Homo sapiens: one gene and its partners. The protein of the gene in region 1 interacts with the protein of each later gene in a biochemical or structural test. Each region holds a gene or a part of one and is shown in the gene's direction. Other genes may lie near its edges. The genes, in order: AP1M1, ARFRP1, CORO7, VAMP4, VANGL2, SLC2A4 and KIF13A.

Region 1 (3,500 bases):
CCGTTTGAGCCCCAGCTCCAGCAGCCATGGGGGATCCCTCACCTTCCCACAGTTCAGTGGGAACAACGACCCCTCACTGCAGGACCATTCGGGTCAGTTGAACTGACTTGTGCATATTGCTCCCAGCAGGCATGGGCTCTGTGCCCTTTCCTGTGTTCTTGGAGACACTTGGGGCCTTGCCAGTACAGTGTGGCCAACGGGCCAGAATATCCGCTGGGAGCCCTTTGGAAATGCAGAATCCCAGGCTCCACCCAGCCCTGCCCCGTCAGAATCTGCATTGTAGGAAGATTTGTTCCTGGTGGCCGGTGTGCACATTCCCATGTGGGCCGTGCTGGCCCAGGGCTCCCTGTGGTGTGCCTCTGTGTAGATTTCACCTGGCTCTGGAAGGCCCTGAGAATAGCTCTGAAGATGATCTTAGGTGGCTTTTTTTTTTTTTTTGAGACAGAGTCTCGCTCTGTCGCCCAGGCTGGAGTGCAGTGGCGCCATCTGGGCTCACTGCAAGCTCCGCCTCCCGGGTTCGCGCTATTCTCCTGCCTCAGCCTCCCGAGTAGCTGGGACTACAGGCGCCCGCCACCACGCCCAGCTAATTTTTTTGTATTTTTTTAGTAGAGACAGGGTTTCACCATGTTAGCCAGGATGGTCTCGATCTCCTGACCTCGTGATCCGCCCGCCTCAGCCTCCCAAAATGCTGGGATTACAGTCGTGAGCCACCGTGCCCGGCCTAGGTGGCTTTTAACCCAGGGAACTGACAGTCCTCTGAAGCCGCCCAGGTATTGGGAGAGGGAGAGGTGGCTGTGGTCTGAGCTCAGCAGGAGCCATCAGATCAGTTTCTGGTTGGGCCCCCACATTTCACACCTGGGCATCTAGGGAAGAGACAGGGAGGGCTCACCCCTCTGGCTTAGTGGACATCGTTTCACCCCCAGCCGGGACAGTGCTCAGCAAGGCCGTGGCTGAGAGGCACCCATGAGAAGGTGAGAGGCCCCCACTGCCCCTGCTTATAAAGCATCTGGGGAGGGCACATTGCCAGGCAGCAGGAGGGAGGCCAGCACTCGTTTGACTGGGCCAGCGTCCCTTTCCTGGGCCCCTGTGCTGTGCTGGGGTGAGGCGGGAAGGGAGAGGATACAGCCCCCACCCTCCCTCCTAGAGCTCACTCCTGGGCAGACGAGCCAGGCAGCACAGATGTGCCATGAACAGGGATGTCCAGGGTGCAGTGCATGGGCCTACAGAGGAAGAACCAGCCTTCTCTGGCGGCCCGGGGACCCATTAGGGAAAAAGGAATAGGAAGCGCCCAGCACACACTGACCCTGGGAGGCAGGGGCTGGCTCCTGTGGCAGAAGGGAACATCTGTGCCAGACATCTCACCTACATTGCCTTGGTGAGTTCATTCACAGGCCTCCATTACACAGGAGAGAAATATCAAGGTTTCTCTAGAAAGGTTTATTTCATGGGCCAAGGCTTGTGTTTCCAAAGCCAGGAAGGGCTGAAGCCAGAATTGGCCCTGGCTGCTTGCCACAGAGTCTGGCCGGGGGACCCTGGACCTCAGCAGGGTCATGATGAGGTCAGCTTTGGAGGAGCAGGGCCAGTGTGTCCTGCTTTCTGCTCCTGGAATGAGCCTCACTCCCTCCCTGCTCAAGGCAGCCCTTCACCCAGCCGCCGGGACAGGTGCCCTGTGCCACCTGCCATCCCTGTGATTCTCCATCTCAGTGAGTGCTCCCTGGGGCCTGGGAGCGCATCTGGCTGGTGACTCCTGTGTCCCAGGTCTAGCTTGGACCAGGAGCTTTGTAGCCCACCATGGGCCAAGTAAACGGCTGGGAGTGGGGATAGGGAAGGCTCTGAGGGTTGTGAGGGTTAGGGGGTCCCTCCATGAACCAGGATCTTCCAGGCAGCAGCCCCAGCCTCTGAATGCTCCTTAACTGTGGCCGCCATGCAGTGGTTGCCACATCCAAGAAGAACGCGTGCGTGTCGCTGGTCTTTTCTTTCCTCTATAAGGTGGTGCAGGTGAGTCTCGCTCGGAGGGGCCGTGGGCTTGGGTGGAGGTTGTCTTGGCTCTGCTTGTGGACCTCCCCATACCTGGCCACCCTACAGAGAGCTGTGGCATCCCCAGGGAGCACTGGGGCTGGAAGCCCAGGAAGTGGGAAAGGGGAGTCCCAACTCCCCACGCCTGTGGAATTCTATAGCTCACGTTGCTCCCCTACCGTGGGGAAGAAAGGAAAGTGAACAGGAAAAGGTAGGGCTCAGAGCAGGGGTGCCCTGACCCTGGAAGGGACAAGCAGGGGTCAGCGAGCTTTGGAAGGATGTGGGGTGACCAGCTGGATGGGGCTGGAATAACCAGCAGAGCTGCAGAGCTGAGCCCACCTCAGAATCTCCCAGGGGGCTCTCAAGGCACAGATGCCTGACGCCCACCTTGGAGAGAGCTGACACGCCAGGCCCAGGCTGCCAGTGAGACACAGATAGCAGCCAGGGTGAAGGCGCCAGGACAGGTGTATGTGTGGTGCAGCTAGGGAGGCCAGCGTGCGTGTGGCAGAGTATGAGGCTGAGGTCAGCTGGGAAGAGGGCGGATTATACAGGAGTGTGGATTTCATTCCACTTCTGATGAAAGGTAGTGGAGGGCTTTAAGCAGGAGACTGACAAGACGTGGTTTGATCTAAAGCAGCCTCTCTGGCTGCTGAGCAGAAGGAGGACTTGAGGCCAGTGAGGAGGCTGCTGCTGGCTTCCCGGAGAGGATGGGCCTGGCCGAGGTGGGCTGTGGGGCTCACGAAAGTGGGGAACAGGACCCAGGAGGCCTGTGCTGGGCCTGGGAAAGCTTTCATCCCTCACTGATGCTGCCTGTGCAGAATGTTGGGGAACAGGGGCAAGCCTGGGCGGTGAGGGCTTGGGGAAGGAGCCGAGGGTCACCTGGGAAGGCCCCACGTGCAGGCCAAGGGCTGCCTTCACTGGACCGGTGATGCTGTCACAGGCAGGGCTGGGCCTGGCTGTGCTGCCTGTGGTTTCCAAGCAGAGGCCGGGTGATCACAGTCCTGAAGCGCGCAGGGGTCAGCAGATCAGAGAATGGGGGATGCGGGAAGGGGAAGGTCCTCACCCAAGGGTTGGGCTGTGCCTTTCTGTTTTAGTGACGCTCCTTCCTTCAGCATTTGTGCCTGCAAAAGTGCTTCTAACAGCCCCTCTTCTTTGGCGTCCCTTCCTTAACCTTCTGAGCTTTCCATTGAAATGGGGAAGATGCATCAAGCTTTCCACTGAAATGGGGAAGATGGCAGCTCATCAGGTCCTTGCCTGAGTCACTCCAGACTCAGAAAGGGATGACAGTTACAGTCGCTCAGGAGGGGCTGCCTGTCTGCGGGTGTCTGGGCAGGGAAGAGAATGGGAACGCAGAGCTTCTGAAGGCCTCGGGACATCTGCAGTGGCTCCAGCCTGGCCCCACCCCACAGCCAGCCACTGCTGTCCTGCCCCATAACCTGGGTCCAGGGCCCTGTAGCACACCACCGAGCCTGGGAAGTAGGCTG
Region 2 (3,415 bases), on another chromosome or scaffold:
CTGTGGTTGGCCCAGCAGGGAGCCCTGGAGGAGAACTGGCTATGCTGTGCCATGTGGGGCCAGGCTGGCCGGGACTTCACACCATGGCCTGGTGGGTCCCCAGTGTGGGCTGCCCTGGGCAGGTGTGACCTGGCAGTGTGGCTCTTTGCAGCCAAAGTGGGTCCCACAGAAACCAAAATGAGACCATCTGCTGGTGCAGTGTTCTCCAACATGAAGCAAGAATACAGTGGGGCCAGAGATGCCTGCACTGGCCACAGCTGCAGCCCTATGTGGACCCACACTTCCACGTTGGAGAGGGGTTCCTCCAAGGTCCTGAGGGCCTCTCTTAAGGCGAAACTGGAAGAGGGAGACTTAAGGGGGCCACTGTAGCCCATCCTTGCTGCTGGTCTTGGGGCTGCACAGCCCTTCCTTGAGTGCCCTCCCAATTCACTACCACTTCTGCTGGGGTGCGACTTCCTGGCAGTCTGAGCCCTTCTCCAGACACCACCGTGGTGGGGCCAGTGGCTCCCTGGGTCCCCAGCTGTGGGACAGCTGTGGGATGGCAGCCCCATCTCCTGCCCACCAGGGTCTCCTAGACATGAGGTGCAAGTCATGCCCATGAGGCAGCTGTGGCTCGTCATTCAGCGTGTCTGCTGAGTATGTGCTGCTCTAGTGGCCGGGACCCCTGACCCTGCTGAGCTCAGAGCTGGGAGGATCAGCTGCAGGGACCCCCCTAGGTCACTGGGAGGGACCGGAAGGGAGGCCCCTGCTCCCACCCTGGTTTCCTGTATCCTGCATCCTTGTGCAGAGCCAGCACCACAGAAAGGGGCGTCATTGCGAATTGGCCTCGTCCTGGGGCTGGACCCTGGGTTGGTGTCCACATGTGTGGCATGTGCCAGGACCTCAGCTCCTGGGTTCTTTGCTGTAACACTAGTCTCTCAGGCTGGCTGGCACTTTGCAGTTGGGGAGCTCCCATTGCTGCTGGGGAGAAAAACTCAGACCCACAGTCCCTCTGACTGCTCCACTGGGGTCAGCTGGCCAGCCAGGAGCCACGCTTGGACACCTCCCTCTTCCCCCTCCTTGTGGGGCACCCCACAATGACCACTGCTGTGACGCCTCCACTGGGGCGTGGGGCTCTGGGTCCTGCCCGCACTCAGCCCTGAGGTGTCGCTCCCGTCCACTGCGGCCCTGCTGGGCTGTGCACCTTGTGCCTGGTAGGTGTGATGGGTGGCTCTGGCCACGTGGTCCCATGGTCCAGGACCCGGTTGCACATGAACCTTCTGCCACCCTGCTCAGAAGCCCCAGGAGCCACGTGGAGATTCTCTCACTGGGCTTGCTGCAGCCTCCACAGAGCCGCCCCTCCTGCCACAGAGGTCTCCACCTTAGGGTCCGCCTGCTCCCTTGTGTCAGCAGCAGACAGCCGGCACACTGCAGGGTCCCTTGAGGGGTTGGCGGCCTCTGTGTGGGACCTGTCTGTAGGCCAGAGAAGTTCCTGGGGGTGGGGGGGCCTCGCTACCTGCAGAACCCTGGAGGGCGCCTGGCCTTGGGCCTCCTCTCCACTGTGGGAAGTTCCTGGGGGTGGGGGGGCCTGGCCTTGGGCCTCCTCCTTTCCACTGTGGGAAGTGCAGGTGCACAGGCTTCTCTCCTCTGTGGGAAGTGCAGGTGCACAAGCTTGTCTGGCACTGGGATGGGGTTGTCTGGTACTCCCTGCTCAGACACCCTAAGGATTTCGGAGAGTTGGGCTGTGCCTCCTGGCTTCTCATGCTCTCGGGTGTGTGTGTCTTAACACACTGACCACCAGCTTGTCCTACCTGGTCAGCATCCAGTTCTAGGTCTCTGGGCACTCATGCCTGGACAGGAGAGCTGGCACAGCCTGGAGGCAAAGTGGCAAATGTGAGCTGTTGTCTGCTCCACGTGGACGCGGAGTTTGCTGTGTTTTTTTCTGATTGAGATAGAGGTGCACTCATCTGGTCCAGGGCTCAGCACTTGTACCTGAGGCTGCAGGGGCTGTGCCCTGTCTTGCCCAGGAGTGTTGCCAGCGAGCCCAGGACTGACCAGCCCAGGCTGCAGAGGTCTGAGCTCAGTGACTCTGGCCCTGTCCTGGCAGGGAAGGCTCGCTTCGTAGATGGCGCTGGTCAGTCTTATCCGCATGGCCACACTCCCTCCCTGTGCGAGGTGCTGGCACAGAGCCCCACAGGTGCACTCCCTCAACGGGCCAGGCTGTGGTCTAGGTTCCTCCAGCCCCCAAACCCTATCTTTTTTTTGAGACAGGGTCTCTCATTCTCACCCAGGCTGGAGTGCAGTGGTGTGATCAGAGCTCACTACAGCCTCAACCTCCCAGGCTCAAGCCATCCTCCCACCTCAGCCTCCCGAGTAGCTAGGACTGCAGGCGCACATTACCATAAGCTTTTGTACAGACGGAGTCTCACTGTGTTGCCCAGGTTGGCCGTGAAGTGGGCTCAGGTGATCCTCCTGCTTCTGCCTCCCAAAGTGTTGGGATAATAAGTGTGAGCCACCACGCCTGGCCCAATCCCTGTCTTTCACCTTTGGCCACCATCAGGCCAAAGGTTGCCGGCAGGTTCTCAGGAGCAGCGTCTGGGGACACCTCCACCAGATCTCCCCGCAACCCCAGAATGCATCCCAGAAGGGTCTTGCAGTTGGGGGCTGCCCTCTTGCCCCTTCCTCATGTGAGCCCCTCACTGTGGCCATGACACAGGCCTGGCTCTGCTGGCCCTTGGCAGGGTGGGGACTGAGCCCCAACTCCTGGTGCTTCCTCCCAGTATTATGCGGAGTGTCACGGCGTCATCTACGTCATTGACTCCACCGACGAGGAGAGGCTGGCTGAGTCCAAGCAGGCGTTTGGTGAGTGCGGCCTGGCTGCTCTGGGAGGGATGGATGGTGAGTGGGGGCAGGTCCAGCTTGGGCAGCTCTGTGCCTGGGGCAGGCTCAGTGTCTGGTCAGAAGTGCTCCTGCCTAGTGGGTGACGGGGGGGGGGGGGGCAGAGGGAGTGGCTGTCACAGTGTCCACGCCTGTGGGCCCCTGGGCAGTCAGAGGCAGGATGCTGGGTGTGAGGCGCTGCCTCTCCTGCCCTCCCCAGAGAAGGTGGTGACCAGCGAGGCGCTGTGCGGTGTCCCCGTCTTGGTGCTGGCCAACAAGCAGGATGTGGAGGTGAGCCCCACCCCTGCCTCCCGCAGCAGCTTCCCGAGTCCCCAGCCTCCCCCACAGCAAGGGGAGCAGGTGTGCACCCAGACACCCCAGGCCCAGTGACTGCCCAGGGGGTACAGAGCCATTCTCAAGGCCTGCCCTGCCCCCAGCAGCTTCCCAAGCCTGGTTCCTCTCCAGACCTGCTGCTGCCAGCCCTGGAGGTTCTCCCACCTCAGGGCAGGCGCCCAGAGGCCTCTTCCTGCTATGCAGGGCACCTCTCCCCAGGAGGGCG
Region 3 (3,500 bases), on another chromosome or scaffold:
GTAGGACCAGGGCTGGCTCACCTCTCCCAGCCTCCCCGAGTCCCTGGTAGCCCCGTGTGGCTGTGTGCCAACTCAGTCTGGCCTGCTGGGTGCCCCCCATCCCTACCCAGTTGACCCTCCCATGGGGGCCCTCCTGACCGGGCAGCCCATGCCCCCATCTCCCCACTGCCGGCCTCCATGCAGGTGCAGAAGGTCAGCCTCAACCCCGCCTGCCGGCCCCACCCGAGCTTCACTTCCTGTCTGGTGCCCCCTGCGGAGCCCCTCCCTGACACAGCCCAGCCTGCGGTGATGGAGACACCCGTGGGTGATGCAGACGCAAGCGTAAGTACCAGGGCCGCCCCCATCCTCCCTCAGCGACACTGCAGTGGCTGCCCTGAGTGTTCACCGGCTGAACGGCCTTTTTTTTTTTTTGAGACAGTGTCTCACTCTGTCACCCAAGCTAGAGTGCAGTGGCGCAACCTCGGCTCACTGCAACCTCCTCTTCCTAGGTTCAAGCGATTCTCCTGCCTCAGCCTCCCGAGTAGCTGGGATTACAGGCATGTGCCACCATGGCCGACTATATTTTAATTTATTTTTTGAGACAGAGTTTCGCTCTTATTGCCCAGGCTAGAGTACAATGGTGTGATCTCGGCTCACTGCAATCTCCGCCTCTTGGGTTCAAGTGATTCTCCTGCCTCAGCCTCCCGAGTAGGTGAGATTACAGGCACCCGCCACCATGCCTGGCTAATTTTTGTATTTTTAGTAGACATGGGGTTTCACCATGTTGGTCAGGCTGGTCTCGAACTCCTGACCTCAGGTGATCCACCCGCCTCGGCCTCCCAAAGTGCTGGGATTACAATCATGAGCCACTGCACCTGGCCTAATTTTTGTTTTTGTTTTTGTTTTTGAGATGAGTCTCGCCCTGTCGTCTAGGCTGGAGTGCAATGGTGCGATCTCGGCTCACTGCAACCTCCGCCTCCCAGTTTCAAGCAATTCTCCTGCCTGAGCCTCCTGAGTAGCTGGGATTACAGGCGTGCGCCACCACGCCTGGCTAATTTGTATCTTTAGTATCTTTAGTAGAGATGGGTTTTCACCATGTTGGCCAGGCTGGTCTTAAACTCCTAACCTCATGATCCACCTGCCTGGGCCTCCCAAAGTGCTGGGATTACAGGCGCGCACCACCACGCCTGGCTAATTGGTATCTTTAGTATCTTTAGTAGAGACGGGTTTTCACCATGTTGGCCAGGCTGGTCTTGAACTCCTAACCTCATGATCCACCCGCCTGGGCCTCCCAAAGTGCTGGGATTACAGGCGTGAGCCACCGCGCCTGGCCAATTTTTATATTTTTTTTAGTAGAGTCAGGCTTCACCATGTTGGCCATGCTGGCCTTGAACTCCTGACCTCGTGATCTGCCCTCCTCGGCCTCCCAAACTGCTGGGATTACAGCCTTGAGCCACCACGCCTGGCCCCAACCTTCTTTGTCAAGTGTAACAGAGACAGAGAAACACGTGGAGCATAAAGAAGGAACTTGCACAGTGCTTTCTAAATTGGGCAAACACTTAAAAAGCAAGAATTTTCATACAGATCTAGATTTCTGGCTTCTCTTAAAATACTGGCAGATCTAACCCACTGGGCACACCCTCCTGCAGGGCTGGGAGCCAGCAGCTGCCACTTGCTGTCCCCGCGGTCTGAAGCTCGGCTGCTTCCCTGTGTGTCTGCGTTTATGCCCGTGCCCCCCGCCGCTCCTGTCGCATGCCCACAGTGGGGGCTCCTCCAGTCCGCAGGGGGCCCAGAGTGGTGACCCTGGAGTCCGCTGGCACCCCCTCCTTTTGGCCAGTACACCTAGGAGCAGGCTGGCTGACCCCATGCCCCTCCCCAGGAGGGTTTCTCTTCCCCTCCCAGTTCGCTGACCTCGCCCTCCACGCCCTCCAGCCTGGGGCCCTCACTCTCCAGCACCAGTGGCATCGGGACCAGCCCCAGTTTGAGGTCGCTGCAGAGCCTGCTGGGTAAGGAGGCAGGACGGGGAGCTCACCCCTACCGCAGGAGCCCTGTCTGCCCCACTCCCCGTCATCCTCCTGTGTACCCTACTGCTGAGCACAGGCCTCATGCAGGGCACCCCCCTCACCCAGACTCACTGGCAGGGTCATTTGTCCTGGGGGCTGGGGTGTGGTGGCTGAGTCTCACCTGCAAAATAGGAGGGCGGCTGGGGCCACCAGCTTCTGAGCAGCCAAAGCCCTGGGCTCCACCAAGATTCCCCGAGCCACCATGGAACAGGGTATATCATTCCAGACATTATTCCTGGGCGAGTTGCATCCACTGGATTAGCAAAGGCCTGGGCCTAGGTCCATGCTGTACATCCACCTGGGGTGAGGGGAGTGGGCAGCCGGGACTCAAAGAGTGCAGGGCGGGCGGGGACGGCATCCTCACACGTGGTTCCATGTCCCTGCCACCTGCCAGGCCCCAGTTCCAAGTTCCGCCATGCTCAGGGCACTGTCCTGCACCGAGACAGCCACATCACCAACCTCAAGGGGCTCAACCTCACCACACCTGGTGAGAGTGACGGCTTCTGTGCCAACAAGCTGCGTGTGGCCGTGCCGCTGCTCAGCAGCGGGGGACAGGTGGCTGTGCTTGAGGTGAGGGCCCCACCCCACCAGGGCTGCCCCTCAGTTCCCTGCCTGTGGCAAAGACGCGGAGGGCCTTAGCTACCCACACAACACAGGGAGCACAAACCTTGTGTCAGGCTCCTGCCCGCCTGTCCTGTGATCCTCCCAGCCACCTGCCATGGGGCCTGCCACTTTTATCCCCATTTTACAGATGAGGGAGAAGAGGCACAGAGAGGTTTAGTGACCTGCCCGGGTCACACAGCTGTGTAAGTGGTGGAGCTGGGATCCGAAGCCCGGCCACCTGAGCCCTAAGCCGGAGCTTTTCCCGCCAGTTCACGCTGCTGCCCCCTCACTCTCTGGGGCCTTGTGGTTGGCACTTGGGGCTCAGAGCGCAAGGTGGTCAGGGCAGAGAGCTTGGGTCACCCAGCGGTGGGAGCCTCTGCTGCAGAGGGTGGGCTCCCAGACATGCTGCTTGCCCGCAGCCCCTGGGGACTGGCTTTTCTGCCTGGTACTGATGGGCCTCGGGGTGGGGGCACCTCCCACAGCTACGGAAGCCTGGCCGCCTGCCCGACACGGCACTGCCCACGCTGCAGAATGGGGCAGCTGTGACTGATCTGGCCTGGGACCCCTTTGACCCCCATCGCCTCGCTGTGGGTAAGGAGGCTGGGTGCCTGGGCTTGAGGGAGGGTCCTGGGTCCCGGATAGGGGCTGGGGAGCCCAGAGGTCTTGGGCTCAGCAATGATGAGCCCCTGTCTGTCCTCTGCAGCTGGTGAGGACGCCAGGATCCGACTGTGGCGGGTACCCGCAGAGGGCCTGGAAGAGGTGCTCACCACGCCAGAGACTGTGCTCACAGGTCAGGCAGGCTCAGGAATGGGGCTGGGGTGGCCAGTGTCTCCCAAGGGCTCCTGATCACCCCTG
Region 4 (3,500 bases), on another chromosome or scaffold:
AGAGTTTCAGTTTTGAAAGATGAAAAAGTTCTAGAGATGAATGGTGATGACAGTTCATTAAGTGAATTACTTAATGCCACAGAACTGTATGCTTAAAAACGGTTAAAATAGTAAATATATGTTATATATATTTACCACAATAAAAATTTATTGACTATATATGTGTGGCTCTATTTCTGGACTCTATGTGTCTTTCTTACATCAATACCATAGTAATCACTATCCTGAGTACTACGACTTTATAGTAAGTTGTGAGGTAGTGTAGTGTATATCCTTCAACTTTGCACTGCCTTTTGAAAGTTCTTTTGGCTATTGGAGGCTCTAAGCATTTTCATATAAATTTTAGAATCATCTTGTCAGTTTCCAGCAAGCCTGCTAGAATTTTGGTTGAGATTATATTGAACCTATAGATGAATTTGGGGATAATTAACATCTTAACAATATTTGGTTTTCTGACCCATGAGCATAGTATATCTTTTTATTTATTTGGGTACTTAATTTCTCTCAGCAGTGTTTTGTAGTTTTCAGTGTCCAGATGTTGTATTTTTTTCTTTGTCAAATTGATCCTTAAGTATTTTCTTTTATTTTTTATTATTATACTTTAAGTTCTAGGGTACATGTGCACAGTGTGCAGGTTTGTTACATATGTATGCATGTGCCATGTTGGTGTGCTGCACCAGTTAACTCATCATTTACATTAGATATATCTCCTAATGCTATCCCTCCTCCCTCCCCCCACCCCATGACAGGACCCGGTGTGTGATGTTCCCCACCCTGTGTCCAAGTGTTCTCATTGTTCAGTTCCCACCTATGAGTGAGAACATGCGGTGTTTGGTTGTCTGTCTTTGCGATAGTTTGCTCAGAATGATGGTTTCCAGCTTCATCCATGTCCCTACAAAGGACATGAACTCATCCTTTTTTATGGCTGCGTAGTATTCCATGGTGTATATGTGCCACATTTTCTTAATCCAGTCTGTCACTGATGGACATTTGGGTTGGTTCCAAGTCTTTGCTATTGTGAATAGTGCCACAATAAACATATGTGTGCATGTGTCTTTATAGCAGCATGATTTATAATCCGTTGTGGGAAGTCAGCGACCCCGAATGGAGGGACTGGCTGAAGCCATGGCAGAAGAGCATAAATTGTGAAGATTTCATGGACATTTATTGGTTCCCCAATTTAATACTTTTATAATTTCTTACACCTGTCTTTATTGCAATCTCTGAACATAAATTGTGAAGATTTCATGGACATTTATCACTTCCCCAGTCAATACTCTTGTGATTTCCTGTGCCTGTCTTTACTTTAATCTCTTAATCCCGTCATCTTCGTAAGCTGAGGATGTATGTCGCCTCAGGACCCTGTGATGATTGCATTAACTGCACAAATTGTTTGTAAAGCATGTGTGTTTAAACAATATGAAATCTGGTCACCTTGAAAAAAGAACAGGATAACAGCGATGTTCAGGGAACAAGGGAGATAACCATTAGGTCTGACTGCCTGAAAGCTGGGCAGAACAGAGCCATATTTCTCTTCTTACAAAAGCAAATAGGAGAAATATCACTGAATTCTTTTTCTCAGCAAGGAACAGTCCTGAGAAAGAGAATGCATTCCTAGGGGAGGTTTCTAAAATGGCTGCTCTGGGAATGTGTGTCTTATATGTTGCAGATAAGGGATGAAATAAGCCCTGGTCTCCCAGGCCTATTAGAACGAGGAAATTCCTGCCCAGTAAATTTTAGTCAGACCAGTTGTCTGCTCTCAAACCCTGTCTCCTGATAAGATGTTATCAATGACAGTGCGTGCCCGAAACTTCATTAGCAATTTTAATTTTGCCCCAGTCGTGTGATCTTGCTCTGCCCCCATTTGCCTTGTGATATTTTATTGCCTTGTGAAGCATGTGATCTCTATAATCCACACCCTATTAGTACACTCCCTCCCCTTTGAAAATCACAACAAAATCTTGCTGGTTTTGCGGCGTAGGGGGGCATCACAGAACCTGCCGACACGTGATGTCTCCCCCAGACACACAGTTTTAAAATTTCTCTCTTTTGTAGTCTTTCCCTTTATTACTCAGACCAGCCGACACTTAGGGAAAATAGAAAAGGTCCTATGTTGAATTATCGGGGGTGGTTCCCTTGATATAATCCTTTGGGTATATGCCCAGTAATGGGATGGCTGGGTCAAATGGTATTTCTAGTTCTAGATCCCTGAGGAATCGCACACTGACTTCCACAATGGTTGAACTAGTTTACACTCCCATCAACAGTGTAAAAGCGTTCCTGTTTCTCCACATCCTCTCCAGCACCTGTTGTTTCCTGACTTTTTAATGATCGCCATTCTAACTGGTGTGAGATGGTATCTTATTGTGGTTTTGATTTGCATTTCTCTGATGGTCAGTGATGATGAGCATTTTTTCATGTGTCTGTTGGCTGCATAAATGTCTTCTTTTGAGAAGTGTCTGTTCATATCCTTCGCCCACTTTTTGATGGGGTTGTTTGATTTTTTCTTGTAAATTTCTTTACGTTCTTTGTAGATTCTGGATACTAGCCCTTTGTCAGATGGGTAGATTGTAAAAATTTTCTCCCATTCTGTAGGTTGCCTGTTCACTCTGATGGTAGTTTCTTTTGCTGTGCAGAAGCTCTTTAGTTTAATGAGATCCCATTTGTCAATTTTGGCTTTTGTTGACATTGCTTTTGGTGTTTTATTCATGAAATCCTTGCCCATGCCTATGTCCTGAATGATATTGCCTAGGTTTTCTTCTAGGGTTTTTATGGTTTTAGGTTTAACATTTAAGTCTTTAATCCATCTTGAATTAATTTTTGTATAAGGTGTAAGGAAGGGATCCAGTTTCAGCTTTCTACATATGGCTAGCCAGTTTTCCCAGCACCATTTATTAAATAGGGATTCCTTTCCCTATTTCTTGTTTTTGTCAGGTTTGTCAAAGATCAGATGGTTGTAGATGTCTGGTATTATTTCTGAGGGCACTATTCTGTTCCATTGGTCTATATCTCTGTTTTGGTACCAGTACCATGCTGTTTTGGTTACTGTAGCCTTGTAGTATAGTTTGAAGTCAGGTAGCGTGACGCCTCCAACTTTGTTCTTTTGGCTTAGGATTGTCTTGGCAATGTGGGCTCTTTTTTGGTTCCATATGAACTTTAAAGTAGTTTTTTCCAATTCTGTGAAGAAAGTCATTGGTAGCTTGATGGGGATGGCACTGAATCTATAAATTACCTTGGGCAGTATGGCCATTTTCACAATATTGATTCTTCCTATCCATGAGCATGGAATGTTCTTCCATTTGTTTGTGTCCTCTTTTATTTCGTTGAGCAGTGGTTTGTAGTTCTCCTTGAAGAGGTCCTTCACATCCATTGTAAGTTGGATGCCTAGGTATTTTATTCTCTTTGAAGCAATTGTGAATGGGAGTTCACTCATGATTTGGCTTTCTGTTTGTCTGTTATTGGTGTATAGGAATGCTTGTGATTTTTGCACATTGATTTTC
Region 5 (2,303 bases), on another chromosome or scaffold:
CCAAAGGCCCACTTTCACCTCCATTACCCTCTTCACCTCCACTAGCTGGTCTTGGCTTTGTGTCATTTTGAGCCATTGCCCACCTTCAACTCTATTGCCAGCTTCCTAGAATTGCTTTCCCTGAGCCACCCTTGGTGAGCAGGTAACTAAAGATGTTGCACTTTAACCTTGACACCTTTGGCTCCCTCCTGGTGCAGACCTGCTTGGCACGAATCATACAAGCTGTGTGGGAAGGAAGGAAGAATGAGGGAGGGCTTGCCCAGGTCACAGCCTGGTGCAGGGAGAAGAGCAGCAGATGGGGGTCAGGGGAGCCGAGTTCAGTCCTACCTGATGAGCCACATCCCCCTGTGCACTCCGGCTTCTTCATTTATAAAATGAGGGTCTGAAGCAGATGATCTCAGGCCCCTTCCTGCTGTAACATTCTGAGGTTCTAGTTCATATGCATAGAGTGAGCTCAGGGACGTCCTTCTTGTCTTTGGAAACTATGACCTAGGGGATGAAGGACCGTGGGTAGATGACAGAGATTCTTATGCAGCCCCTTCTTTCCACTTCAGGCCTTCTTGGAGCGATACTTGGCGGCTGGACCTACCATCCAGTACCACAAGGAACGCTGGCTGGCCAAACAGTGGACATTGGTGAGCGAGGAGCCGGTGACCAACGGCCTCAAGGATGGCATCGTTTTCCTCTTAAAACGCCAGGACTTCAGCCTGGTGGTCAGCACCAAGAAGGTCCCATTCTTCAAACTCTCCGAGGAATTTGTGGATCCCAAGTCACACAAGTTTGTCATGAGGCTGCAGTCTGAGACCTCAGTGTGACTGTGCAACAGCAGGGGGAGTGGGAAACTCTGGGGGGTCCTGAGGGGGTGGGAGGGGGCTTGGTTCTCAGGCCCAGCCACATTCCTGCCACCCTTCTTCTTCTTGCTCTTTTTTTTTTACTTGAATTAACGCACCCCCACCTTCTCTCCTCGCTTCTTCCTTATTTTACCCCATGTGAACCTGGAGAGACCATCCTGCTGTCAACAGTACCTGGGAAGGACTCCCACCTCACCAACAACTTTTGTATTACTCTAGGCCCTGCAGGAATCAGTGCCTCTCTCCCTCTTCTTTCCCTAGTCTTTTCCCAGATTACAGTCTCTCCTGAAAGGGCACAGGGCCCTGCTGATTGTACTTTCCCCTCCTGAGCCCCGACTCACAAATCCAAGTTCTTAAAACATTTCTCTTCAGTGGCCCAACAGGGTTTCTCTGGGGCACATGGACATGACTCCAGAGAGCCACAGTGCCAAACTCCTCCAGGGCAGCAACTGGCCCTCCTGTCCCTCACCCCAGCCACAACAAACCCTGGGTTCTAGGGCAGGGATACTCCTGCCACACAGCCCGAGTTAGAAATCTCCTTGCTAGGAGCATTTGCTTCCACATATATTTAGAGCAAAGAAGGATCCCATCCTTTTCCCAGAAATCTCCACCTAATGTTTTTGGTTTGTATGGTCACGTGACCATAGGCAACCACGTGGAAACCCTCTGTGACCACTTTTCCAGGGACTTAGGGGAAGGTACCTTTCTTCCAATGTGTCTTCCTAGGCAGCCCCTGAGGAGGAGGGCTGAATAGATCCCTGAGGTTTTGGAGAGACCCCCATCACTGACTCCTGCTCCCTAACCCTACCCTCACTTTCGTCCCCGCTCTTCCCAGTGAAGGATGGTATGTAGACTCCTGTACAGACATAGTGGCTTGCAGACCCTGACCCAGCCCCTGTGGTCTTAGACAAATGTTTTTATTTTTGTCACCAGCCACCCCTGTCCTGCCGCCTTCTCTCGACTCCAGAGACCTGTTGCCTCATCTCTTTTGGGGAAGAGCCGGCAGCTCCTCCTCATCCCCTGCCTTAAGTCCAGTTCTTTGCCTCAGGGGTCTCGTTTCCTTGGCCTTCCAGGGTCCCCACCCCTTTTCTCCCTGCCTGATTCTCTGAGCTCTGGGCTCCGTCTGTATTGGGTTGAGGGGCAAGGATTACTGCCTTTTGTAGGTACTTCACCCCTCACCCCATTTTAGCTTCCATAGTCTTTGCACCAAATCCAAATTCTTGATAATTTAGATCTCATTTTGAGCAAAATTTGCTGGCCCTCTAATAAATATTTTCAATATAAATCTGAGCCTTTGACTCAGACATTTTTGCCAAGGAGAGTAGAATTAGGAAGTACCCATATACATCCAGCCAGGATCCACATGGAGGACCTTTCTGATGGCTGCAATGACTAGGCCATTCCTCTGAGTAACTCACAGTGTCCTTTTGTAGGCCCTTCTTTTCCCTGAAA
Region 6 (4,108 bases), on another chromosome or scaffold:
GAGGTCAAAGCACCAATGTTGGAAACTAACTGGATAAACGAGGAGAGCGGCGCAGGACAGGAGGAATCGAGCCTGACTTCTACCATAGGGGTGACTGGGCGGGTAATTCATTGAAATAAGGAAGTTAGGAGGAGGAGCAGGTTTGGACATGCTGATCACTAGAGCTGCCACATCCGGGCGGTAACGAACACCTGGATCTGCAGCTCCAGAGAAGGGCCTGGGTCAGATGTCACTGAAGCCCTATGGTGGCGGAAAGGCGAGAAATAGTGGGTTGAGATTCCAAGTGCAATCCACTGCGGCTCCTCGCTCGCCCTCCAGGTGGCAGCACAACCCTGCGCTTCCGAAGCCCGTTTTCTGAGCCAGACACTCTCCACGCTCTGGGTATTTCGGCTTCTCTCTCCCCACACGCCGACCCTAGGTCGCGCACTTTCTGCCTGGCAGAATTTGGCCGAGGATCCAAACCCGGAGCAGCCTCCAGAGAGCGTGTCGTTCACGCGGCCAGCATATGCTCAGAGACCTCAGAGGCTCAGAGACCTCAGGGCTGGTGGTGTGGTCGGTTGTGACCACTTGTCCCTCGGACCGGCTCCAGGAACCAACCTGGGGAATGTGTGTAGGGGAAGGGCGGGATAGACAGTGCCCGGAGCAGGGAGGCGCTGAAAGACAGGACCAAGCAGCCCGGCCACCAGACCCGTTGTGGGAACGGAATTTCCTGGCCCCCAGGGCCACACTCGCGTGGGAAGCATGTCGCGGACTCTTTAAGGCGTCATCTCCCTGTCTCTCCGCCCCCGCCTGGGACAGGCCGGGACGCCCGGGACCTGACATTTGGAGGCTCCCAACGTGGGAGCTAAAAATAGCAGCCCCGGGTTACTTTGGGGCATTGCTCCTCTCCCAACCCGCGCGCCGGCTCGCGAGCCGTCTCAGGCCGCTGGAGTTTCCCCGGGGCAAGTACACCTGGCCCGTCCTCTCCTCTCAGACCCCACTGTCCAGACCCGCAGAGTTTAAGATGCTTCTGCAGCCCGGGATCCTAGCTGGTGGGCGGAGTCCTAACACGTGGGTGGGCGGGGCCTTTTGTTCCAGGGACTCTTTTCTCAAAACTTCCCAGTCGGAGGCTGGCGGGAACCCGAGAGGCGTGTCTCGCCAGCCACGCGGAGGGGCGTGGCCTCATTGGCCCGCCCCACCAACTCCAGCCAAACTCTAAACCCCAGGCGGAGGGGGCGTGGCCTTCTGGGGTGTGCGGGCTCCTGGCCAATGGGTGCTGTGAAGGGCGTGGCCCGCGGGGGCAGGAGCGAGGTGGCGGGGGCTTCTCGCGTCTTTTCCCCCAGCCCCGCTCCACCAGATCCGCGGGAGCCCCACTGCTCTCCGGGTCCTTGGCTTGTGGCTGTGGGTCCCATCGGGCCCGCCCTCGCACGTCACTCCGGGACCCCCGCGGCCTCCGCAGGTTCTGCGCTCCAGGCCGGAGTCAGAGACTCCAGGATCGGTTCTTTCATCTTCGCCGCCCCTGCGCGTCCAGCTCTTCTAAGACGAGATGCCGTCGGGCTTCCAACAGATAGGCTCCGAAGTAGGATTCATCATGAGGGGGCGGGGCGGGGGGGCACGGGTCCCGCTTTTCTTGGGCTGGGGTCGCGGTTGGGGTCAGCTGGGGGTGGTTCCTGCGCAGGCGCAGGGGGTGAAGGTAGGGGGCTGGCTATTTATACCCGGCCTGGACAACCCGTGACTGTGAGATTCCAATCCTACCAAAAGGCAGAGTGGGTCTGGAGGGCCTTTCGGGGCACAGGCAGCAAGTGGATTCTGCGAGCCAGGGTTCACCCCCTTGCCTAGTAGGCGGCGCGGCGCTCCGGAATCGGGGACACCCTGCCCTCGATCCGACTCGGGAAAGCAGATCCAGGCGGGTCTTGCCCTCCGGGAGCTGTCCGTCCGTCTTCGCTCACGGGCAGTGTTTCGAGGACCGGAGGCTCTCCGTGGGCCCCCACCCCCACTCCTGGCCGCCCTCCAGGACGCTGAACTTTCCCTTGGCCCCATGGTTGGTGGAGGGGCAGAGGGGACTGTCAGCCCCCCCTCCTCCAGCTCAGGTTTCCGCTTGGAGACAGTCTGTGCCGCCAGCGAGCGGCCACCACTGCCACCGCCCCTCACACTACCTTCCTGCCCTCCTCCCCTGGGCATGGCTCTCCCAGGCAGAACCCCTGGACGGCCCTCCCTGCACGGAGGTTAGAGGGGGAGGGCAGGCCACGACGTAGATAGAGAAGGCCACCCCTAGATGACCGGGATGTCCTTTCTGGAACAGCACTTCTTGGTCCTGTTGGGGGCCTCCTGGAGCTGGCTGACAGAACCCCCAGAGGGGAGGGAAGAGGACAGTGGCTGATGATAATAATGCACGTGTTAATTTATGAAACCAGCACTGTCAAGGATATTGTTAACATGTGATGTTGATTTTCACAACACTCTCACAGATAGGTAGGCAAGGCAGGCAACATCACCCCCATCTCACAGAGGACACTCAGGTTCGGGGCAGGGAAGTGACTTGGCCAAGGTCACACAAATCTGAGCTCTTAAGGCCAAGCCTGTCTCAAGGTCACAGAAGAATTTTGAGACAAGTTCTCAAACATTTCTCTGCCTTATGGACCCAAACATCCAGTTTCTCCTTTATGCCCAGGTTGCAGTTCAGCTCCTGTTTACATTGAGATCTTTGTGCAATTCCTAATATGGCCCAGTTTCCCTCACCCAACATGTTGGGTGGAGCCCAGTATCTTCAGGCTCCAGCTGGGCCCGGGCCCCTAGCGGAAGGAAAAAAATCATGGTTCCATGTGACATGCTGTGTCTTTGTGTCTGCCTGTTCAGGATGGGGAACCCCCTCAGCAGCGAGTGACTGGGACCCTGGTCCTTGCTGTGTTCTCTGCGGTGCTTGGCTCCCTGCAGTTTGGGTACAACATTGGGGTCATCAATGCCCCTCAGAAGGTGAGGGCCTGCAGCTGGCAGGGTGGGGGTACCCAAACGAGGAGGACAGGTGTCTCGGGGGTGGTGGAAAGGGGACGGTCTGCAGGAAATCTGTCCTCTGCTGTCCCCCAGGTGATTGAACAGAGCTACAATGAGACGTGGCTGGGGAGGCAGGGGCCTGAGGGACCCAGCTCCATCCCTCCAGGCACCCTCACCACCCTCTGGGCCCTCTCCGTGGCCATCTTTTCCGTGGGCGGCATGATTTCCTCCTTCCTCATTGGTATCATCTCTCAGTGGCTTGGAAGGTTCGCAGCTGGAGGGCAGGGGTGGGGGAAACAGGAAGGGAGCCACTGCTGGGTGCCCTCACCCTCACAGCCTCACTCTGTCTGCCTGCCAGGAAAAGGGCCATGCTGGTCAACAATGTCCTGGCGGTGCTGGGGGGCAGCCTCATGGGCCTGGCCAATGCTGCTGCCTCCTATGAAATGCTCATCCTTGGACGATTCCTCATTGGCGCCTACTCAGGTACTCACGGGCACCACAGCCCTGCCTAGCGCCCTGTTCTCTTTCACCATGCCTGGGCTTTCAGATGGGAATGGACACCTGCCCTCAGCCCTCTCTTCTTCCCTCGCCCAGGGCTGACATCAGGGCTGGTGCCCATGTACGTGGGGGAGATTGCTCCCACTCACCTGCGGGGCGCCCTGGGGACGCTCAACCAACTGGCCATTGTTATCGGCATTCTGATCGCCCAGGTGACCGGAGCAAGCCTCATGGGTGCCTGGGCAGTGGTTAGAGTGGGGCTCTGGAGAATATGGTGGGCTTCCAAGGTAAGGCAGAAGGGCTGAGTGACCTGCCTTCTTTCCCAACCTTCTCCCACAGGTGCTGGGCTTGGAGTCCCTCCTGGGCACTGCCAGCCTGTGGCCACTGCTCCTGGGCCTCACAGTGCTACCTGCCCTCCTGCAGCTGGTCCTGCTGCCCTTCTGTCCCGAGAGCCCCCGCTACCTCTACATCATCCAGAATCTCGAGGGGCCTGCCAGAAAGAGTAAGCTCTCCCGCTGCAGCCTGGCCCAGGCCCATGCCTCCGCCTCATCTTGCTAGCACCTGGCTTCCTCTCAGGTCCCCTCAGGCCTGACCTTCCCTTCTCCAGGTCTGAAGCGCCTGACAGGCTGGGCCGATGTTT
Region 7 (3,500 bases), on another chromosome or scaffold:
CAGTAAAAACAAGTGAGAATGCATTGACGTCCAGGGAAAAAAAAAAAAAACAGATGGGGTCAGCTTTCATTGTTTCCCCATTTTACAAAACCAAAGCCAAGACTGTGTAGCTAGGACTAAAAGATCAGAGGATCTCTGAGGTTAAAGATGTTTGTTTTGTTGCTGAAATTCTAGTATTGTAATACATTGCATAGGTCCAGGTTAGTAGTTGATATGTATACTGATCACCATTCTGAAACATTAAGACACATGGATTTGTTTCTTAAAATACCATTGCATTGCTCTCCAGGAGACATTTATGAAGTTCAGATCATTTCAGTACCATGCTCAGCATAGGGGATTCAAAGATACTTGTGGATCCAGTACCTACACCAGAGTCACTCACCTTGGAGAGAAGGAGGAGAGAGAGGAAAAAGTAGTTAAAATACAACGTGGTAAATTACGCTGGTGTATACTTTTGCCATTTCATGAACCACATAATTTCAAAATTCTCTGTTTCCTCTTTCTCTCCCTGGAGGCTGTGAACTGCTTGAAGGCAGGTAGGTACCTTATCCTACTTCTCTTTGTACCTCATGCTCCTGCATACTGGCACTTAGCAAGGGCTTAGCAAATGTGATGGGAGCATTGAGGAGGGGCTGTGGATGCTACCCAAGGTCCTGTCAACTTGCCAAGACAGGTGGTGTTTGTGTGGTCTTATGGATGCTGAGAGCATAGGTTCACTTTTGCAAGACGAGGAGAGAGTCCTTTGCCAATGAAAGTGAAAGCATACCTGCAACACATTGCTTCTGGGTGCTTGTATGTGTGTGAGGTGAGGGGGTGGAGTACCATTCAGAAGCAAGGTAGTTCTGGGCTGGGTGAGGTAGCTCACACCTGTAATCCCAGCACTTTGGGAGGCTAGGGTGGGCGGATCTCTTGAGGCCAGGAGTTTGAGACCACCCTGGCCAACACGATGAAACCCTGTCTCTCCTAAAAATATAAAAATTAGCCGAGTGGTACATACCTATAATCCCAGTTGCCTAGGAGCCTAAGGCAGGAGAATCGCCTGAGCCTTGGCGATGGAGGTTGCCGTGAGCTGAGATCGTGCTACTGCACTCTCGCCTGGGCAACGGAGTGAGACTGCATCTCAAAAAAAAAAAAAAAAGCAGCAGCAGCAAGACAGTTTTGGGGGTGGGGTGGGTGTGGGTGAAGGGATGGAGTGGGGTGAAGGGAGCAATGGAATGAGAATCCCTAACTTGCTAAAAAGGGTGACATACACAGTGAAATGTCTTCCTCTTCACCCCTGCTGTCATCCCTACTTTGCCCATCTCTTCACCTCTCGGAAAATGGGTAGCCACTGTCATTTAGTTCTCATGCCTTTTTTTCCAGATATATATGTGCATTTTTAATACAACTATATACACAAATAAGTATTTATATATTTTTTAAGAAATATCTTTGGTAGCTTTCTTTTTTTTTTTTTTTTTGAGATGGAGTCTCGCACTGTCACCTGGGCTGGAGTGCAGTGGCGTGATCTCGGCTCACTGCAACCTCCGCCTCCTGGGTTCAAGCGATTCTCCTGCCTCAGCCTCCCGAGTAGCTGGGATTACAGGCGGCCACCACCACGCCCAGCTAATTTTTTTGTGTATTTTTAGTAGAGACGGGGTTTCACTATGTTGGCCAGGCTGGTCTCAAACTCCTGACCTTGTAATCCGCCTGCCTCGGCCTCCCAAAGTGCTGGGATTACAGGCGTGAGCCACCACGCCTGGCCCCCTTTGGTATCTTTCAATATCAGCATATTAAGACTTACTCATTCTTTTTTACATTCAGTGTGAATGGTAGTGGTGGTTTTTAAAATATAGGTGGTTGGCTTACGGGTCTGATCCCCGTGACTTTTAGGAAGTGATGCTGTGCTGTGAAAAGAATATAGTGGAACTTGCTTTCTACAGAAGTTTTTGTTCTTAATTATTTTATGTAAGTGAATTGTAAGGTAAGACTCCAAAATAAAGTGCATATCTAACCTACTGTGTAAAAATAAAATGTTGGGCTAAATATGGGCTCTCGGTAGAAGAGCATGAAAGTTTTTAGCTTCCTGTTCATTTTTTCCATATGGCAGGATGAACAATACACCTTGCAAATCGTGTGAGGGAGGGTCAGTTGAAGAAAGCTTCCTCTTACTAAACTTTGTATGTATTTTTTAGTTTATTCACCAGCGGTATCCCTGTCTGAACATCTGAAATCTAAAATGCTCCAAATCCTGGGGGCCAGACACAGTGGCTCACATCTGTAATCCCAGCACTTTGGGAGGCCAAGGCAGGCAGATCACCTGAGGTCAGGAGTTCGAGACCAGCCTGGCCAACATGGTGAAACCCTGTCTCCACTAAAAAAATACAAAAGTTAGCCGAGTGTGGTGGTGCACACCTATAATCCCAGCTACTTAGGAGGCAGAGGCAGGAGAATCACTTGAACCCAGGAGGCCGAGGTTGCGGTGAGCTGAGATCGAGCCATTGCACTCTAGCCTGAGCAACAAGAGTGAAACTCTGTCTCAAAAAAAAAAAAGAATGCTCAGTTGGTAAGTATATAATGCATATATTCCAAATTCAAGAAAAATTCAAAATCCAAAACACTTCTGGTCCCAAGCATTTTAGATAAGGGCTATTCAGTCTGTAAATATTGCAAGTTTTTATTTCTAAGCTGGCTTCCTCCGCCATTCTGAAGGCTTCTAGGATGGTTCCTTGGCTCCTGTGTCTCTGTAGACCAGAAATTTAAATATTAGTGAAAGTCATACATAATTAGAAAGATAAGTCACCTAAGAAGCAGTAATACTCCACATTATAAAATCACCTGTGGGACTTTGAATTCTCTTTTCTGTGTTGTTATTCTTCTCTCTGCCCATATTACAGAGTTAATTGTAAGAAAGCAAAGAATAAGGCCGGACACAGTGACTCAGTGACTCACACCTGTAATCCCAGCACTTTGGGAGCCTGAGGCAGGCAGATCACGAGGTCAGGAGATCGATATCATCCTGGCCAACATTGTGAAACCCCATATCTACTAAAATACAAAAAATTAGCCTGGCGTGGTGGTGTGTGACTATAGTCCCAGCTACTCGGGAGGCTGAGGCAGGGGAATGCTTGAACCCGGGAGGCGTAGGTGGCAGTGAGCCGAGATCATGTCACTGCACTCCAGCCTGGCGACAGAGCGAGACTCTGTCTCAAAAAAAAAAAAAAAAAGAAAAAAGAAAAACAAAACTAAAAGTAATTATAATGCATTGTAGTTTAGAGTGGTTATATTATTTTGTTGACAGTCAACAGTTAAAAATACATTTTACATTATGAACCTGTTTATGTGGATATGTATATTTCAAAGGTTATGAAAAAATACTCTTAACTGTATGCAATGTCTTTTATTTTCTATCCCCTTCTGTTAGAATTCATTAAAAAAATAATGGCTATGTCTTACCGAATTATTTCTCAACCCACTAATGAGTCATAAACTTATATTTTGAAAAACATAGGTTTAGT

Evidence for each region.
Region 2: the proteins of AP1M1 (region 1) and ARFRP1 form a complex in vitro, tested with the Homo sapiens proteins (one study listed by BioGRID).
Region 3: the proteins of AP1M1 (region 1) and CORO7 interact in a test that uses a peptide from one of them, tested with the Homo sapiens proteins (one study listed by BioGRID).
Region 4: the proteins of AP1M1 (region 1) and VAMP4 form a complex in vitro, tested with the Homo sapiens proteins (one study listed by BioGRID).
Region 5: the proteins of AP1M1 (region 1) and VANGL2 form a complex in vitro, tested with the Homo sapiens proteins (one study listed by BioGRID).
Region 6: the proteins of AP1M1 (region 1) and SLC2A4 form a complex in vitro, tested with the Homo sapiens proteins (one study listed by BioGRID).
Region 7: the proteins of AP1M1 (region 1) and KIF13A form a complex in vitro, tested with the Homo sapiens proteins (one study listed by BioGRID).

The regions. Positions count from the first base shown.
Region 1 is NC_000019.10:16,204,411-16,207,910, forward strand, and holds part of AP1M1 (AP-1 complex subunit mu-1), read left to right. Parts: intron 1-1,930; coding exon 1,931-1,998; intron 1,999-3,500. UniProt on the Homo sapiens protein: Subunit of clathrin-associated adaptor protein complex 1 that plays a role in protein sorting in the trans-Golgi network (TGN) and endosomes.
Region 2 is NC_000020.11:63,701,562-63,704,976, reverse strand, and holds part of ARFRP1 (ADP-ribosylation factor-related protein 1), read left to right. Parts: intron 1-2,759; coding exon 2,760-2,841; intron 2,842-3,076; coding exon 3,077-3,147; intron 3,148-3,415. UniProt on the Homo sapiens protein: Trans-Golgi-associated GTPase that regulates protein sorting. Controls the targeting of ARL1 and its effector to the trans-Golgi. Required for the lipidation of chylomicrons in the intestine and required for VLDL lipidation in the liver.
Region 3 is NC_000016.10:4,361,097-4,364,596, reverse strand, and holds part of CORO7 (coronin-7), read left to right. Parts: intron 1-183; coding exon 184-321; intron 322-1,858; coding exon 1,859-1,985; intron 1,986-2,436; coding exon 2,437-2,612; intron 2,613-3,127; coding exon 3,128-3,236; intron 3,237-3,348; coding exon 3,349-3,435; intron 3,436-3,500. Other genes in the region: CORO7-PAM16 protein, read left to right, coding at 184-321, 1,859-1,985, 2,437-2,612, 3,128-3,236, 3,349-3,435. UniProt on the Homo sapiens protein: F-actin regulator involved in anterograde Golgi to endosome transport: upon ubiquitination via 'Lys-33'-linked ubiquitin chains by the BCR(KLHL20) E3 ubiquitin ligase complex, interacts with EPS15 and localizes to the trans-Golgi network, where it promotes actin polymerization, thereby facilitating post-Golgi trafficking.
Region 4 is NC_000001.11:171,721,566-171,725,065, reverse strand, and holds part of VAMP4 (vesicle-associated membrane protein 4), read left to right. Parts: intron 1-3,500. UniProt on the Homo sapiens protein: Involved in the pathway that functions to remove an inhibitor (probably synaptotagmin-4) of calcium-triggered exocytosis during the maturation of secretory granules.
Region 5 is NC_000001.11:160,424,564-160,426,866, forward strand, and holds part of VANGL2 (vang-like protein 2), read left to right. Parts: intron 1-554; coding exon 555-815; 3' UTR 816-2,303. UniProt on the Homo sapiens protein: Involved in the control of early morphogenesis and patterning of both axial midline structures and the development of neural plate. Plays a role in the regulation of planar cell polarity, particularly in the orientation of stereociliary bundles in the cochlea.
Region 6 is NC_000017.11:7,280,410-7,284,517, forward strand, and holds the start of SLC2A4 (solute carrier family 2, facilitated glucose transporter member 4), read left to right. Parts: upstream 1-1,308; 5' UTR 1,309-1,525; coding exon 1,526-1,558; intron 1,559-2,835; coding exon 2,836-2,952; intron 2,953-3,063; coding exon 3,064-3,236; intron 3,237-3,328; coding exon 3,329-3,453; intron 3,454-3,564; coding exon 3,565-3,680; intron 3,681-3,807; coding exon 3,808-3,970; intron 3,971-4,075; coding exon 4,076-4,108. UniProt on the Homo sapiens protein: Insulin-regulated facilitative glucose transporter, which plays a key role in removal of glucose from circulation.
Region 7 is NC_000006.12:17,981,136-17,984,635, reverse strand, and holds part of KIF13A (kinesin-like protein KIF13A), read left to right. Parts: intron 1-3,500. UniProt on the Homo sapiens protein: Plus end-directed microtubule-dependent motor protein involved in intracellular transport and regulating various processes such as mannose-6-phosphate receptor (M6PR) transport to the plasma membrane, endosomal sorting during melanosome biogenesis and cytokinesis.